Linked DNA regions of Homo sapiens: region 2 is linked to region 1. The links come from fine-mapping of genetic effects on gene expression. A gene starts in region 1. The other region holds a variant in brackets. All regions are shown on one strand. Distances are between the middles of the regions. Region 1 holds the start of TEX14 (testis expressed 14, intercellular bridge forming factor). Region 2 overlaps PRR11 (proline rich 11).

The links.
Region 2: its variant is fine-mapped to the expression of TEX14 in whole blood (TOPMed, PIP above 0.99).

What each region holds. Positions count from the first base shown.
Region 1 is chr17:58,687,841-58,696,177 of GRCh38, forward strand. It overlaps TEX14 (testis expressed 14, intercellular bridge forming factor), which reads right to left and starts at 4,205. Exons shown (of 32, transcript NM_031272.5): 1 at 4,099-4,205. IGBP1C (IGBP1 family member C) reads right to left here and starts at 4,205. Exons shown (of 2, transcript NM_001395966.1): 1 at 4,099-4,205. It overlaps RAD51C (RAD51 paralog C), which reads left to right and starts at 4,762. Exons shown (of 9, transcript NM_058216.3): 1 at 4,762-4,948; 2 at 7,091-7,349. The coding sequence starts at 4,804. RefSeq lists enhancers at 4,520-4,619, 4,950-5,119.
Region 2 is chr17:59,156,982-59,165,318 of GRCh38, forward strand. The region is part of intron 1 of PRR11 (proline rich 11); the gene reads left to right. Among named protein-coding and RNA genes, the nearest start is that of PRR11, 5.4 kb to the left of the region's middle. RefSeq lists an enhancer at 1,251-2,450. The variant G/A (reference allele first, on the strand shown) is at 4,111.

The DNA of each region.
Region 1 (8,337 bases):
AGATAGCTACACAAGTCAGAAATGCAACATGTCAGAAATACTCAATAAAGATCCTGATAGATTATAAGCTCCATGAGGGCAGAGAATCTATCTTGTTTACCCTGTCATCTGGCACATAACTAGCATTTAATCAATATTTAATCTTGTTTTAGTGATCTAGTCTTCAGAGTGCTAATCCTGAATGTAGACCCCAGTCATAGGATTACTGTGGATCAAGTCAAAGAAAATAAAATATATAAAAGTACTCTACTTCGGCACTTTTACAATTATAGACTTTTTTTGTTTTGTTTTGTTTTTGAGACTGAGTTTTCCTCTTGTCGCCCAGGCTGGAGTACAGTGTCATAATATCGGCTCACTGCAATCTCTGCCTCCCATGTTCCAGCAATTCTCCTGCCTCAGCCTTCCAAATAGCTGGGACTATAGGTACCCTCCACCACCCCCAGTTAATTTTGTATTTTTAGTAGAGACGGGGTTTTACCACATCGCCCAGGCTGGTCTTGAACTCCTGACCTCAAGTGATCTGCCAGCCTCAGCCTCCTAAAGTGATGGGATTACAGGTGTGAGCCACAGTGTCTGGCCTAATTGTAAACATTTTTAAAAAACGTCTCAGCATTAGCATTCTGCTGAGCTAGGTATTCTATAAGGATTTATTCCAACTGAATATGCGCATTAGAATGCTGTAAAAACTGAGAAACAGACTCAGATTTATTATGTACTTTTTTGTGTGATAAGTACTGTATATGTGTTAATTTAATCTTGACCAAAACCCCAGGAGATATTATCTTCTACTTGCAGGTGAGGAGACTGAGTAACTTGCTGAAGGTCACATAGTTGGTAACTTCCAGACATGTGATACAAATCCAAATCTGTGTGACTCCGCAGCCCATGCTGGTTTGCCCATAGCAATGTCTCTCAAATTTTTTCATGAAGTAACCTCAAGTTGCAAGAAAAACCAAAACATATTCCCGGGGGGGGTTTGGGAGATTACTGAAGTATCCAGTTTAAGCCTGATGTGTCTCTGACCTCATACTTTTCTCTTAAATTTTATTTTTATATTTGCATTTTACCCCCACATTTTGTTTTTATTTCTATACATATATTTTTTTTTGAGATGGAGTCTCGCTCTGTCACAGAGGCTGGAGTGCAGTGGCATGATCTTGGCTCACTGCAAGCTCTGCCTCCCGGGTTCACACCATTCTCCTGCCTCAGCCTCCCAAGTAGCTGGGACTACAGGTGCCTGCCACCACACCCGGCTAATTTTTTGTATTTTTAGTAGAGATGGGGTTTCACCGTGTTAGCCAGGATAGTCTATCTCCTGATCTCGTGATCCGCCCACCTCGGCCTCCCAAAGTGCTGTGAAACAGGCGTGAGACATCACGCTCAGCTAATTTATTTATTTTTAGAGGGAGTCTCTCTCTGTTTCCAGGCTAGAGTGCAGTGGCCTGATCTCACTCACTGCAACCTCTGCCTCCTGGGTTCAAGCTATTCTCCTGCCTCAGCCTCCTAAGTAGCTGGGACTATAGGCACACATCAACATGCCCAGCTAATTTTTGTGTTTTTAGTAGAGACAGGGTTTCGTCATGTTGGCCAGGATGGTCTTGATCTCTTGACCTCATGATCCACCCGCCTTGGCCTCCCAAAGTGCTAGGATTACAGGAGTGAGCCACCGTGCCCGGCCTACCCCATGTTTTATTAAAGTTTATTTTCTTTTTCAAAAATTTTAATGATTTATCCACACTACACAGATGTAATGTCTGCTTAATATAAACCATTTCAAATGACTTAGGTAAATCATTTAACTCTTCCCTCCCTGAAAGATTTTTTTTGAGAAAAGTGATTACACAAGAAGGTGCACCTTCCATATTTATCCCATAGCTTTGTTTAGTTCCTAGTGCGTGGTTTCAAAAACCTGGATCCCAGTTTGAAAGCATGACTACAGAGCAAATTGCATTAAAGACATCTTAAGAATGATGATGAAAATAATTATTATAGGCAAGGGCCAGAAGATTTTTTTTTTTTTTTTTTCTGAGATGGAGTCTCGCTCTGTCGCCCAGGCTGGAATGTGGTGGCGTGATCTAGGCTCACTGCAAGCTCCGCCTCCTGGGTTCATGCAATTCTCCTGCCTCAGCCTCCCGAGTAGCTGGGACTACAGGCGCCCACCACCGCACCCAGCTAATTTTTTGTATTTTTAGTAGAGACGGGGTTTCATCATGTTAGCCAGGATGGTCTCGATCTCCTGACCTTGTGATCTGCAGAAGATATTAATAGCACTTAAATTATACAGCTATAGATAGAGTTGAGTGGGGGTTTTTTTGTTTTTTTTATTTTGCTTTGTTTTGTTTTTGAGATGGAGTCTCGCTCTGTCGCCCAGATTGGAGTGGAGTTACGCAATCTCAGCTCACTGCAACCTCAACCTCCCGGGCTCAATTGGTTCTCCCACCTCAGCCTCCCAAGTAGCTGGGACTAGAGGCATGTACCACCATGCTGGCTAATTTTTGTATTTTTTGTAGAGATGGGGTTTTGCCCTGTTGCCCAGGCTGGTCTCAAACTCCTGAGATCAAGCGATGTGCCCTCTTTGGCCTCCCAAAGTGCTTGGATTCCAGGCTTAAGCCACTGTGCCAGGCCAAAGTAGTTTTGAACTTTCCACTGTCAACGAAAGAAATTCTAAACACGACTGATTCCACTGAGTTTGACCAAACTAACTGAAGACTTATTGTTGAATGTGGTAATACCATGTTTTTTCTTCACCCAAGAATCTGGGTGCTTTATAAGCATAAGCATGAAATCTCCCTGAAGATAGTATTTATGCATCCACTGAGCGCTCAAATATAGACCATATTAGAAGTTAAGCAATGGGTTGAGTGGCCAACCACATTTTGGCCAGTCCTACAAGACTTTCTTTGACCTACCAAATGGGGTATAAATGCTTCTCGTATTCTCCCCGCCAGTAGGGACTCAAAATCTTAATAGCTCGGGGTAGTAAAAAGGATGCTAGGTTTGAATCTTGGCTTTAAGAAAACTGTGCTGAGGTGTTTTGTTTGTTTGAGACAGGGTTTCACTCTATCACCCAAGCTGGAGTGCAGTGGCGTGATCATAGCTCACTCCCAGGCTGAAGGGATCCTCCCACCACAGACTTCTGAGTAGCTGGGACGACCGGTGCATGCCACCATGCCCGGCTAATTTTTTGTACTTTTGGTACAGACAGTGTTTCGCCATGTTGTCGAGGCTGGTCTCAAACTCATGAGCTCAAAGAGATCCACCTGCCTCGACCTCCCAAAGTGCTGGGATTACAGGCACGAGCCACTGCGCCCGGCCAGCTTTTTTTCTTTTATCAGAATTGATATTAAACTATATGCTGAGCTTCCATGTCCTTATCTTCCTTTTGGCATGGCTATGGCCATTTGAAATGTGTGGGATTTGCTAAAGTGCTCAACATACGTTGTTTCCTTTTTTAGATCTAAGTATGTAGAGGGCTCTGATTTGCAATATTTAGAAAGTTCTTCTAAGCTGGGAAGAAAAGTCAAGACTAAGAATCATTGCCAACAGGGCCGGGCGCGGTGGCTCACGCCTGTACTCCCAGCATTTTGGGAGGCCGAGGCAGGCGGATCACGAGGTCAGGAGTTCGAGACCAGCCTGGCCAATATGGTGAAACCCCTTCTCTAATAATAATACAAAAATTAGCCGGGCATGGTGGCGTGCGCCTGTAATCCCAGGTACTCAAGAGGCTGAGGCAGGAGACTCACTTGAACCCGGGAGGCGAAGGTTGCAGTGAGCCGACATCGTGCCACTGCACTCCATCATGGGCAACACAGTGAGACTCTGTCTCAAAAAAAAAAAAAAAAAAATCGCCAATAGGTAGGGAATAAGTTACCCCCTGCTAAATAAGTTACACTCACCTAGGCAAGGAAGGAACTCATAAACCACCTTCTAAACTGCTTGCCTTCCTCCCCGAAGTTCTGTAATTTAGAGGCGGTCACTACCACTGCTTGAACACCCCTTCCCAAGTCTGTACCACAAAAGGAGCTCTTGTGTAGCCCAGCCCCTCCTTCTCAGGACCCCAGGAGCCCAGACACACTAATGGGGACATTAGTTGCTTACTTTTCCAGCTACTGCTTAAGCTAGGCAGGCCATGAAGAAATAACGGTCTCAGTAACCTCCATGCTCGGGATACGACTCCCGGGAAGACGTGGGTGGGTGCGGGGAATGCGGACTGATCCCTCCCAGCGGCCGTTGGGGGCTGGCCCACAATCCCTCGCGAGGGCGGGAAAAGCAATGTGGTCGTTGCGGGGGGGGGGGGTCAGAAAAGGGGGACGGTCAGCGGGAAGAGCCAAGAGACTGCAACTCTACAAAGAGCACGCAGATTAATTCTAATGATTGTTCCCTGAGCTTTTCACACCAAAATAATGGTAACTGGCTAGTGTGTGCCCGTTACGCTCACTACTCCCACTCGAGATCATTCCTATTAATGACTCTGAGGCTTCACCTAACAGGCCACGGTGGAGGCAAGGAAATGTGGCGTGGAGAACCCACTGGGCCTGGCTCTCCGTCCTATGGTCTCCGTCCATCGTTTTACAGTCAGGGTGTACATTTGATGAGGAATCTCTAAATGGGATTTTGGGGAATCAAAACGGAATGGTGCATAAGTGTGAAAATTTACAAGACTGCGCAAAGCTGCAAGGCCCGGAGCCCCGTGCGGCCAGGCCGCAGAGCCGGCCCCTTCCGCTTTACGTCTGACGTCACGCCGCACGCCCCAGCGAGGGCGTGCGGAGTTTGGCTGCTCCGGGGTTAGCAGGTGAGCCTGCGATGCGCGGGAAGACGTTCCGCTTTGAAATGCAGCGGGATTTGGTGAGTTTCCCGCTGTCTCCAGCGGTGCGGGTGAAGCTGGTGTCTGCGGGGTTCCAGACTGCTGAGGAACTCCTAGAGGTGAAACCCTCCGAGCTTAGCAAAGGTAACGACTCCTGATGGCAAGCTGAGGCACACCGGCCGCCGTCAGCGCCGCCTCAGTCTTCGTTCTCTCGCCTCGGCCTTCAGCCCAGTCTCCGTTAGATTCTGCTTCCTCCCACGTCCATGTTTACAGCGTGAAAGAGCTCCTCGACTCCACTTACAAGTTGTCTGAATGGTTAGGAGAACTGTGGTCGTGAAAACATTTACTAATTGCTTTTCCTCTGGCAATGCCTGCTGAATGCTTTGAGGATTGTCTCATTTAACCCTCAACCCGCTTACGTAGATTATTATATTCAGTATATGGATGAGAGAACTGATATCTTGGGGAGCTTAGGTAACTTTTCATGCTAACTGGGTTAGGAAATACTGGAGTCAGAATTGGTTGTCTAATTTTTGCTGTTCCAAGATCCAAGGGGTAAGGGTTAAATTTCAGAAATGCAGGATTTTGTGTAGGACTAGAGACACTAAGAATGAGAAAGAGAGTAGAATCCCCGGAATCTTGAGGAAGCATAGAAAGAATATTCTCTTACGTAATTAACTGAAACACCCAAAACCTCATATTCCAGAGCATTGCAGATGGGAACCACTGCATCCTGAGACATACAAATATGAGGCTGGCGGTGGTCACTTGTTGTGCACATCTCTCTATGACATGTCTGGACCTGTGCTATTCACTGAAGAAGATGGAACAGAATTTTAAGTTACTGCCCTTACTGATGGAAAATACAGAGGTTTCAATTCGCCTCTAAAGAATAAGTCTCGTGGACCCAGCCTTAACTGTTTAAGTCATACCGCGCGCAGACTGTGTCCCCCAAGATTTGATGGGCTCTTTTTTCTTCAACAAGTTGGCTTTTCAAAGAAGAAATGTGAGACCCTGAATAATAATGATCACTAACAACTATTGACTACTTTAGATGGTCTTGATATTCTACCAAGCTTTTTACATGTATCGTCTCATTCCCATTTTATAGACGAAAAAAATCTGAGCAAAAAAGAAAAAGTGAAGTAACTTGCCCAAAGTCATGCAGTAAGTGGTGCCAGGATTTACAAACCCAGGCAATCTAATTCCAGCATTCAGGCTCTTGATAGGATTTTCATTTCCTAAATGCTGTCATCACCATTGTCTTTTATTAGCCCCATATTTATGGCTCATATTCTTATCAGATCAAGCACTGATATATCAAACTGATAAGTGATGTCATCCTCACCATTATTTCTTCACCAGCTTGTTTTGTAATTGCCATTTTCTTTTCTCAGGCCACACTGTCAGATGGGTGAAATTGTGTAGTCGAGGAAGCATAAATGTATTCTTTAAAATGCTTGTGCCTTGAATAATTGTTCTCATTAGTTTGGAGTGATACATGAATTTTTTACATCAGTTATTTCCATGAAAAGTTTTTATTATAAATAATACATGCATATGTGCTTCTTAAAGTTGTACCTTGTTTTAGGCAGTTAAAACATCTATTTTCATTCTCATCTGAAAAATAATTTGTATACCTTATGAGAGCGAGATAATTATGGCTTCATAAGACCAAAAGGGATAGTAAAAATATGGTAATAGTGAGTACATTTTTATTTCTGCTTCCTGAGACACTTGTAGGTACTCAGAAATGCTTTAGTTGAATTGTTTCTGAGGTAATAGGTAATTCTTTATGTGATGACTAAGAAAACGAATACCTTTATTAAGCTGAATTTTTTTTTTTTTTTTTTTGAGACGGAGTCTCGCACTGTCATCCAGGCTGGAATGCAGTGGTGCGATCCAGGCTGGAGTGCAGTGGTGCAGGTTCAAGTGATTGTCCTGCCTCAGCCTCCCAAGTAGCTGGAATTATAACGCGTGCCACCATGCCCGGCTAATTTTTGTATTTTTAGTAGAGACGGAGTTTCACCATGTTGGCCAGGCTGGTCTTCAACTCCTGACCTCAGGTGATCTGGCTGCCTCAGCCTCCCAAAGTACTGGGATTTTAGGCATGAGCCACTGTGTCCGGCCAAACTGAAAAATTAAATGGTTGATAGAATGTTGCATTTTTATGTTTCTCCACTCCTAGCATCACTGTTGTCTACAAATTAATAAAGACAATCGATTATCATGTTACACTTTTAAATCTCTAAAATTAGGGTTCTTTTTTTCTTATTTTACTTTCAGAAGTTGGGATATCTAAAGCAGAAGCCTTAGAAACTCTGCAAATTATCAGAAGAGAATGTCTCACAAATAAACCAAGATATGCTGGTACATCTGAGTCACACAAGAAGTGTACAGCACTGGAACTTCTTGAGCAGGAGCATACCCAGGGCTTCATAATCACCTTCTGTTCAGCACTAGATGATATTCTTGGGGGTGGAGTGCCCTTAATGAAAACAACAGAAATTTGTGGTGCACCAGGTGTTGGAAAAACACAATTATGGTAAAATAAAGTGTTCTCCTTTTAAGGGTGGGTTTAATAACATATTATGAAAGTAGTATTTTGTACTATCGTCAGGAAACCAAATAAGATATATATGTGCTCTTAATTTTAAGTGTGTATGTGCATTAAACAAAAATTAGCTTACTATTTGTGTTACTTCATTATCCCTTCTTGATAAATGTATGCAATTATTCTGATGTGAAAAAGTGTTTCTTTTGCAAATTGTACTGCAGTCATAAGGTTAAACAGGAAGTTTCTGCGTTATTCATTCCTGAGACTATATTTGAAAGTCAGATGTTTGAAAGTAGATTTATGGCTAGGGGTAGTGGCTCATGCCTATAATCCCAGCACTTTGGGAGGCCGAGGCAGGAGGATTGCTTGAGCCCAGGAGTTTGAGGCCTGCCTGGGCAACATAGTGAGACCTCGTCTCTACTAAAAATGGAAAATTAGCTGAGTGTGGTGGCACATGCCTGTGGTCCTAGCTACTTGGGAGGCTGAGGCAGGAGGATAGCTTGAGCCGGGGAGGTCAAAACTGCAGTGAGCCTTAATCACATCACTGGGCAGCAGAGTGAGACCCTATCTCAAAAAAAAAAGAGGCCGGGGATGGTGGCTCACACCTGTAATCCCAGCACTTTGGGAGGCTGAGGCGGGTGGATCACCTGAGATCAGGAGTTCAAGACCAGCCTAGTCAACATGGCGAAACCCCATCTCTACTAAAAATAAAAAAATTAGCCAGGCATGGTGGTTCACGCCTATAGTCTCAGCTCCTCGGGAGGCTGAGGCAGGAGAATCGCTTGTACTTGGGAGGTGGAGGTTGCAGTGAGCCGAGATCATGCCACTGCACTCCAGCTTGGGTGACAGAGCAAGACTCTGTCTCAAAAGAAAAAAAAAAAAGGTAGATTTATGTATAATAAGGGGCTCCATTTTGAGAGGCCTGGAAATGATTAAAATATTCTTAATTGGCTGGGCGCAGTGGCTGACGCTTGTA
Region 2 (8,337 bases), 470 kb after region 1:
TCCTGCAAAAGACTGTAATTCTTACTGTATTATTTATTGCATCTTCCTATTGGAAAATAGCTTTAGACCCATCTTTTAGCCATATGAAGATGTGGTATGATATGAAGAAGTAAAAACCTCCCTAACCAAGAGAATTTGACAATATTAGAATATATTCCTTAACTAAAATAACACTTGCTAGCTAACACTTAGCAGGAATGCTTCTTTTCATTCTTTATTGAATGAAACATTATTTAGCTCCTGCTGTATTCTAGATGCTGGGAAAACAAAGATGAATGAAATTTGTCACACCCTTGAAAAGCTCACAGTCCAGCAGGATGACAAACATACAAGCAAAAATTACAATGAAATGTAATACATTTTATAATAAAGATGTGTATAAAGTGCTATAGAAGTGCAAAAGAGATGACATTTCAGCCAGTATAAATTCTGTAAGGAGGCTGGGCATGGTGCCTCACACCTGTAATCCCAGCACTCTGGGAGGATGAAGCGGGCGGATCACTTGAGGTAAGGAGTTCAAGACCAGCCTGGCCAACATGGCAAAATCCCATCTCTACTAAAAATACAAAAATTATCCGGGTGTGGTGGCACGCCCCTATAATCCCAGGTGCTCAAGAGGCTGAAGCAGGATAATCGCTTGAACCCAGGAGGTGGAGGTGGCATTGAGCTGAGATCACACCACTGCACTCCAGCCCGGGTGACAGAGCGAGACTCTGTCCACCCCCCCAAAAAAAAAAAAATTCTAGAAGGACAAAGACTATGTTGGTGTTGTTCAGGATTGTATGCCAGCACCTAGCATAGTACTTGGTGGATTATAAGCACTCAACTAATATCTATAAGATAAAATAACAGAATCTTGAAGGCTAGGTATAAGTTGACTTGGAAGAGGATACTCTAAACAGAAGGAAAGGCTGATAGAAAGAAACAGAAAGTATTTGGTGTTTAGTATACCTGGAAGTACAAACCGCTAGTCACTAGAAGAGACTATGGCAAAGGGCCATTAGAGCTAAGTTGTGAAAAGTTTTGAAAGGCATGCTAAGGAATTTAATTTTGTGAGTAAAGGAACCTTCAAATACTTTTAAGCAAGGGAATATCTAGATCTCATTTTGTTTTAAAGTATCAGTTCTGGTATGGAAAATGAACTGGCAAGGAGAAAGACTGAAGGCAGGAGAATCATTGAAGGAACACTCAGCAAACCCAAACTAAGAAACATTCTCCAAAACGACTGACTTGGACTCTTCAAAATTATAAATATGAAGAAGCAAATACATAAATAAAAAAGCTGGAGAATTGTTATGAATTAAAGGGTACTAAAGAGACACTACTGCTAAATGCATGTGGAACCAGGGTGGGAGAAGCTATAAGGGATATTGAGACAATTGGGGCAATCCGAATATGGGCTGTTTATTAGATCATTTCATAACAAGGTTAAATTTCCTGACTGATTGTGGTTTTGTTGGAAAATTTCCATGTTTATGTTAGAAAACAAAAGCTAAAGTATCTAAGAGTAAAGTATCATGATGTCTGCAACTAAATCTATTCAATCCAAAACTAAAAAAATTTATGTATGTATATATTTGTACATACGTACAGAAAGAGTGTGTGTACAAAGACGGCAATTGACAATTGGTAAATCTAGGTGAACTGTATATGAGTGCTTATTATACTATTGTAAATTTTTTATTTCCTGGAGCCTTGAAATTTTTCTAAGTAAAAACAGTAAAGGAAAATAGACAATAGTGAAAGACAAAAATGAAAAAAGTGAAGGCAACTGAAGTTAGAGGACAGAACGGAGGGGGATGGTAAGGAGAAGAGACAGGGTAAATTAATCAGAGAAATATTTCTGATTCATACTCACATTGGCCCACACCCAGGTGTGGTGTGCACCCAGTGCAGTGGCGTGATCTTGGCTCACTGCAACCTCCACCTCCTAGATTCAAGTGATTCTAATGCCTCAGCCTCCCGCGTAGCTGGGATTACAGCACACTCCACCACACCTGGCTAATTTTTCTATTTTCAGTAGAGACAGGGTTTCACCCTGTTGGTCAGGCTGGTCTCGAACTCCTGACCTCAGGTGATCCACCCACCTCAGTCTCCCAAAGTGCTGGGATTACAGGTGTGAGCCACCGCACCCAGCCTCCCACACCCTCTTTTTTTATAACCCTCTACTCCAATAGGAGCTCCATTGTCTCTGCATTCTTTTCACCTTCCTGGCCATGCCTTTTCTAGTTCTTTCTCTACCCACTCCTTATACATGGTGTTTCTCAAAGTTTGGTAATCAGCTCATAGATCTTTTCACTCCACATATTTCTCTGGGTAATTTCACTCATTTCTAGTGTTGTTATTTTCTCAAGCTACCTATACACTTATGAGTGCAGTATTTCTCTAGTGTCTTTCCCCTGAACTTCTGACTTTGAACATAGAACATAAGCAGTTAGATGTATTTAGATACCCTACTGTCGCTCCTATAATCAGGTCCTCATCCCCTAGACAGTTGCAGTAGGTTTGTAAGTGGTCTCTTTGTCTTCAGTCATGGTCCCATAAATCCAATTTCCACGATGCTGCCAAACCATTCTTTCTAAAGAAGAAATACGAGCATGACAATTATCTGCTTAAAATCCATTATTGTTTCTGATGTCTTGGTCCTTATCCACCCTCCAGCTTCATCACTCATTGCCCCCTGACAAAACTTTACGTTGCAGGATATGCTTTAGTCACACTGAGTCTTGTCTGAATCCCCTGACATACCTTTCTCTGAAATGTTTCCATGTTATTCCCTCTGATGGGATGAGTCCTCCCTAGGCCCACCTTAACCTAGCCCCTTCATCAAAGCTCAGCTTAGGCAAAACCTTTTCCAAAAACCTCAACCCTTATGGGAGAATTATGTACCCTTGCTTTATTTCTCCATTAATATCATATACATATCCCATCATAACCCATACACTATTGTATACCTGTTTACTTTCTGCTTACCCATCTCTCCCCACTGTAAACTCTTGGAGGGCAGGAATGTGTCTTATTCATTTTCATAGCAAGTTATCACTATATGTTGTTGAATTAAACTTGTATTTTAAAAAATCTGATATAGTAATCTCAAGCAGCAAAAAAAAAAGAATCAAAGAATAATAATGATAATAATGATAAAACTTATTGCCTGCCAGGCACTGTAAATACTTTACATGATTTACTCATGTACTCCTCAAAACTCTGAAGTAAGTTCCTATTAATATTATTATTTCACAGGGGAGGAAACTGACACAGAAAGGCTAAGAATCTCTTGAAGGTCATAAATAAGTTATGACAGTATAGTAGAGCCATGATTTGAACCTATGCAGTATAACTCCCTGGTCCTCATCCTTAACCCCTACAGTATACTTCCTCTTGTTGTTTGTTTGTTTGGTTGGTTGGTTTCGGTTTTGGTTTGGGGGTTTTTTCTTAGACTGAACCTCATTCCAATTTTTATATTTTTAGTAGAAATGGGGTTTCACTGTGTTTGCCAGTCTGGTCTCGAACTTGACCTCAAGTGATCCATCCACCCACCTTGGCCTCCCAAAGTGCTGGAATTACAGGCGTGAGCCACCATGCACGGCCTATAATATGACCTTTATTATTGTTTGATTTGTTATCAAGAGCTCCAGATGTACCAGTTTGCTGGTTCCTTAGCCTAGAAATCTTTTCTTAATGAAAAGAAGATGTAAGTAAAAATGAGAGTAATTTCTAGAGATCATAGAGTTATTTAGGATATTTATGTTGTTTTTTTCTTTTTTTTGGAAACAGTTTCTCGCTCTGTGTTCCAGGCTGGAGTACAGTGGCGCAGTCATGGGTCACTGCAGCCTCAAGCTCCTGTGCTCACGTGAGCCTCCCGCCTCACCCTTCAGAGTGGCTAGGACTATAGGTGAGCCACCACGCCAGGATTTTTTTTTTTTCTTTTTTTCATACAGTTGGGACTCTCACTGTGTTGCCCAGAGTGGTCTCAAACTCCTGGGCTAAAGGCATCCTCCCACCTCCACCTCAGCCTCCCAAAGTGCTGGGGATTACAGCACTTTGAACCACCGCCCTTTGCCTATATGTTTATGTTTCTAATGATTTTTCAGATTATTTGAGAAAGCA[G/A]TGTAAGAAAAAAACTAGTTTAAAAAATACATAGGCCAGGCATGGTGGCTCATGCCTATAATCCTAGTACTTTGGGAGGCCGAGGGAGGCGGATAACCTGAGGTCAGCAGTTCAAGACCAGCCAGGCCAACATGGCGAAACCCCATCTCTACTAAAAATACAAAAATTAGCTGGGCGTGGTAGTGTGTGCCTGTAGTCCCAGCTACTCGGGAGACTGAGGCAGGAGAATCGCTTGAACTCGGGAGGCAGAGGTTGCAGTGAACCGAGATCATGCCACTGCACTCCAGCCTGGCCAGGCAACAGAGCGAGACTCCGTCTCAAAAAAAAAAAAACAAAAACATAAAACAAAAAAAAAAACACACACACAAAACATAAGGGCCGAGTACAGTGGCTCACACCTGTAATTTCACCACTCTGGGAGGCCAAGGCCAGTAAATTGCTTGAGCTCAGGAGTTTGAGACCACCTAGGCAACATGGTGAAACCCTGTCTCAACTAAAAATAAAAAAACCAGCTGGGCATGGTGGTACGCCCTTGTAGTTCCAACTACTCAGGAGGCTGAGGCAGGAGGATTGCTTGAGTCCAGGAGGTCAAAGCTGCAGAGAGCTGAGATCACACCACTGCAATCCAGCGTGGGCAACAGAGCAAGAACCTGTCTCAAAACAAAAGGAAAAATGCTTTAAGGAATCACAAAAGAATGAGCTTCTATTCAGTGTTAACAATTAAAATCCCACCTAATCCAGCAAAAAGAATTTGTAGGTCTCATTATGCTTTTGGAAAGGGGATAAGTATACGTATTTTAAGCTAAAGGAAGACTGCTATATACTCTTTCAATTTGGGCAATTATCCTCTGGAAAGTACCTAATGCTTTTAATTAAGTAATGATACTAAAACAAACCTTAATTTTTTGTGTTCTTGTTTTGACTGAGGTAGAAATTTGCTATTCTCCACTTTCGCAAGAGCTGTGATTATTTTTGGATGGAACAACTAACTATCTAGGAATTATCTCAGACTGCATCTTTCTACCCTGACAGATTTTGCATGGTTCCTTAATCCTCTGCATGTGCCAATTACTGTATTTAATTAGAAGGAGATTAGATAGAAGCACTAATAACCCAAGTCAGACACACACACACACACACACACACACACACACACACAGAGAGAGAGAGAGAGAGAGAAAGAAATATGACTTAGTTCCTAGACATCTTTATCATTGAAAAATAATTCCCAAAATGACAGACATTGGCTTGTGTAGGACTCTAGAAATTTGTATGCATAGACACTGGAACAGCCAACAGGAAAGGACTAGAAAGAAATGGCCCTGTTTCAGAATGGTGGTACTCAAATTTTCCAGCTAATGGTACATACCAAAGTTTGAAAGTCAAATACAATACAAGCCTTATTAGAATTAGAAAGAAATAACAAAAAAAAATAGCAGTCCAGTTTAAACCACCCCTCTGTAATCCTGACTCCCAATTGTCAGAGGCAACACTATTAAGTCTTGTAATTATTTCTTCTGGTATTTACCTCCATATTTCTAAGTAACATTCATACTATTATTTCATGATTTTTTTTTCAAGTGTAGGCACTATATAAATTTAGACAAATACTGACTTCCATTCACTTTCTCTCCCTTTTTTTTTTTTTTTTTTTGAGACAGAGTTTCACTCTTGTTGCCCAGGCTGGAGTGCAATGGCACGATCTCGGCTCACCGCAACCTCCACCTCCTGGGTTCAAACGATTCTTCTGCCTCAGCCTCCAAGTAGCTGGGATTACTGGCATGCACCACCACGCCCGGCTAATTTTTGTATTTTTTTAGTAGAGATGGCATTTCTCCATGTTGGTCAGGCTGGTCTTGAACTCCCGACCTCAGGTGATCTGCCTGCCTCAGCCTCTCAAAGTGCTGGGTTACAGGCATGAGCCACCACACCTGGCCCACTTTCTCTCCTTCTTCCTAGTATACCTACATCATCATTTTTGGTTAAATAAATTGTCAATGCTTATACTTTTTTTTTTTAGATGGACTCTCGTTCTATTGCCCAGGCTGGAGTGCAGTGGCACAATCTCGGCTCACTGCAACCTCTGCCTCCCGGGTTCAAGAGATTCTCCTGCCTCAGCCTCCCAGATAGCTGGGACTACAGCCACATGCCTGGCTAAATTTTGTATTTTTGGTAGAGACAGGCTTTTGCCCTGTTGGCCAGGCTGGTCTCAAACTCGGGACCTCAGGTGATCCTCCTGCCTCCCGGCCTCCCAAAGTGCTGGGATTATAGGCATGAGCCACCATGCCCAGCCAATGCTTATACTTTAAATATTGTTTAACAGCTTAACATTTAGTGCTACTAAGATTACATTTCCTTTCTTATACAACTTTTTTCCTAGCTATTTTTTATATGCTTATTTTTTTAAGCACTTACCAGCAATTTGGCCACAAGTTTACAGAACAGTAAAACTCTGCTCAGAATGGTCAAACACACTAGGCAGTTTATCTATTTCCGTTTTTCCTTAGAGACATTGTTGCTGAAGCCCTCTGTCCTGTCCTTCTGCGGCAGTCTTCACTGGCTGTGAGCCTCAGGTCAGCAAACTACTGCTTTTATAGAGCTTGTGAGCTAAGAATGATTTATAACTTCTAACAGTTAAAAAAAAATCAAAAGAGGAACAATATTTTGTGACACATGAAAAGTATATCAAATTTGGCCGGGCGCAGTGGCTCATGCCTGTAATCCCAGCACTTTGGGAGGCCAAGGCTGATGGATCTCGACGTCAGGAGTTCAAGACCAGCCTGGCCAAGATGGGGAAACCCCGTCTCTACTAAAAATACAAAACTTAGCCTGGCGCCGTGGCAGGCGCCTGTAATCCCAACTACTCAGGAGGCTGAGGCAGGAGAATCACTTGAACTTGGGGGGTGGGCGGAGGTTGCAGTGAGCTGAGATCATGCCACTGCACTCCAGCCTGGGCGACAGAGTGAGACTCCATCTTAAAAAAAAGAAAAACATAAAAGTATATGAAATTCAAATTTCAGTCATAAATAAAATTTTATTAGACACAGCTCCTTTGCTTGAGTATTGTCTATGACTGCCTTGGTGCTACCCTGGCAGGGTTGAGCAGTTGCAGCAGAGACCATATGGCCTGCAAAACCTGAAATATTTACTTTCTGGTTCTTTACAAAAAAGGTTTGTTGACCCCTGTCCTAAGCTTGCTCAAAGCTGTTTCCCCTAGATTTTTTTATCACCATTATCCTGAAAATTCTTATCTTTTATCTTAATTCTTTCCTCACACCTGACTGAAAGTTTGGCCTAATATAGAATTCTATGATGGGGCCGGGCGTAGTGGCTCATTTCTGTAATCCCAGCACTTTGGGAGGCTGAGGTAGGAGGACTGCTTGAGCACAGGAGTTTAAGACCAGCCTGGGCAACAGAAAAAGAATGGGGGAGGACTGTGAAGGATCAGATGGAAGACAAAGAAAAGGAAGATGCTAGGAAATTTCGGATTCTAGGGCTCCCAATCAGTGGACTCAGCCTTAGATAGAAGTTTCCAGTGGCATTTGTCTATAGAAGGTCCTGGCCGTACAGGACTTCAAGACCAGCCTGGCCAACATGGTGAAACCCCATCTCTACTAAAAATAAATAAATTTTAAAAATTAGCCGGGCATGGTGGCGCGCGCCTGTAATCCCAGCTACTCCGGAAGCGGAGGCAGGAGAATCGCTTCAACCTGGGAGGAGGAGGCTGCAGTGAGCCAAGATCATGCCACTGCATTCCAGCCTGCACGACAGAGCAAGACCGTGTCTCAAAAAAAAAAAAAGGTCCTGACCATAGATTTGATGAAATGTAACCTTTTTTCTTCAGGCAGCCACAAGATCGCTCCTTCCTAGGAGGCTCTCCTAAATATCTTCATCAGAGTATTTTTATCTTGCGTTTTTGTTTTGTTTTTTTGTTTTGTTTTGTTTTTGAGACAGAGTCTCGCTCCGTCGCCCACGCTAGAGTGCAGTGGCTCAGTCTCGGCTCACTGCAAGCTCCGCCTCCCAGGTTCACACCATTCTCCTGCCTCAGCCTCCCGAGTAGCTGGGACTACAGGCGCCCACCACTGCGCCCGGCTAATTTTTTGTATTTTTAGTAGAGACGGGGTTTCACCATGTTAGCCAGGATGGTCTCGATCTCCTGACCTCATGATCTGCCCGCCTTGGCCTCCCAAAGTGCTGGGATTACAGGCGTGAGCCACCGCGCGTCCG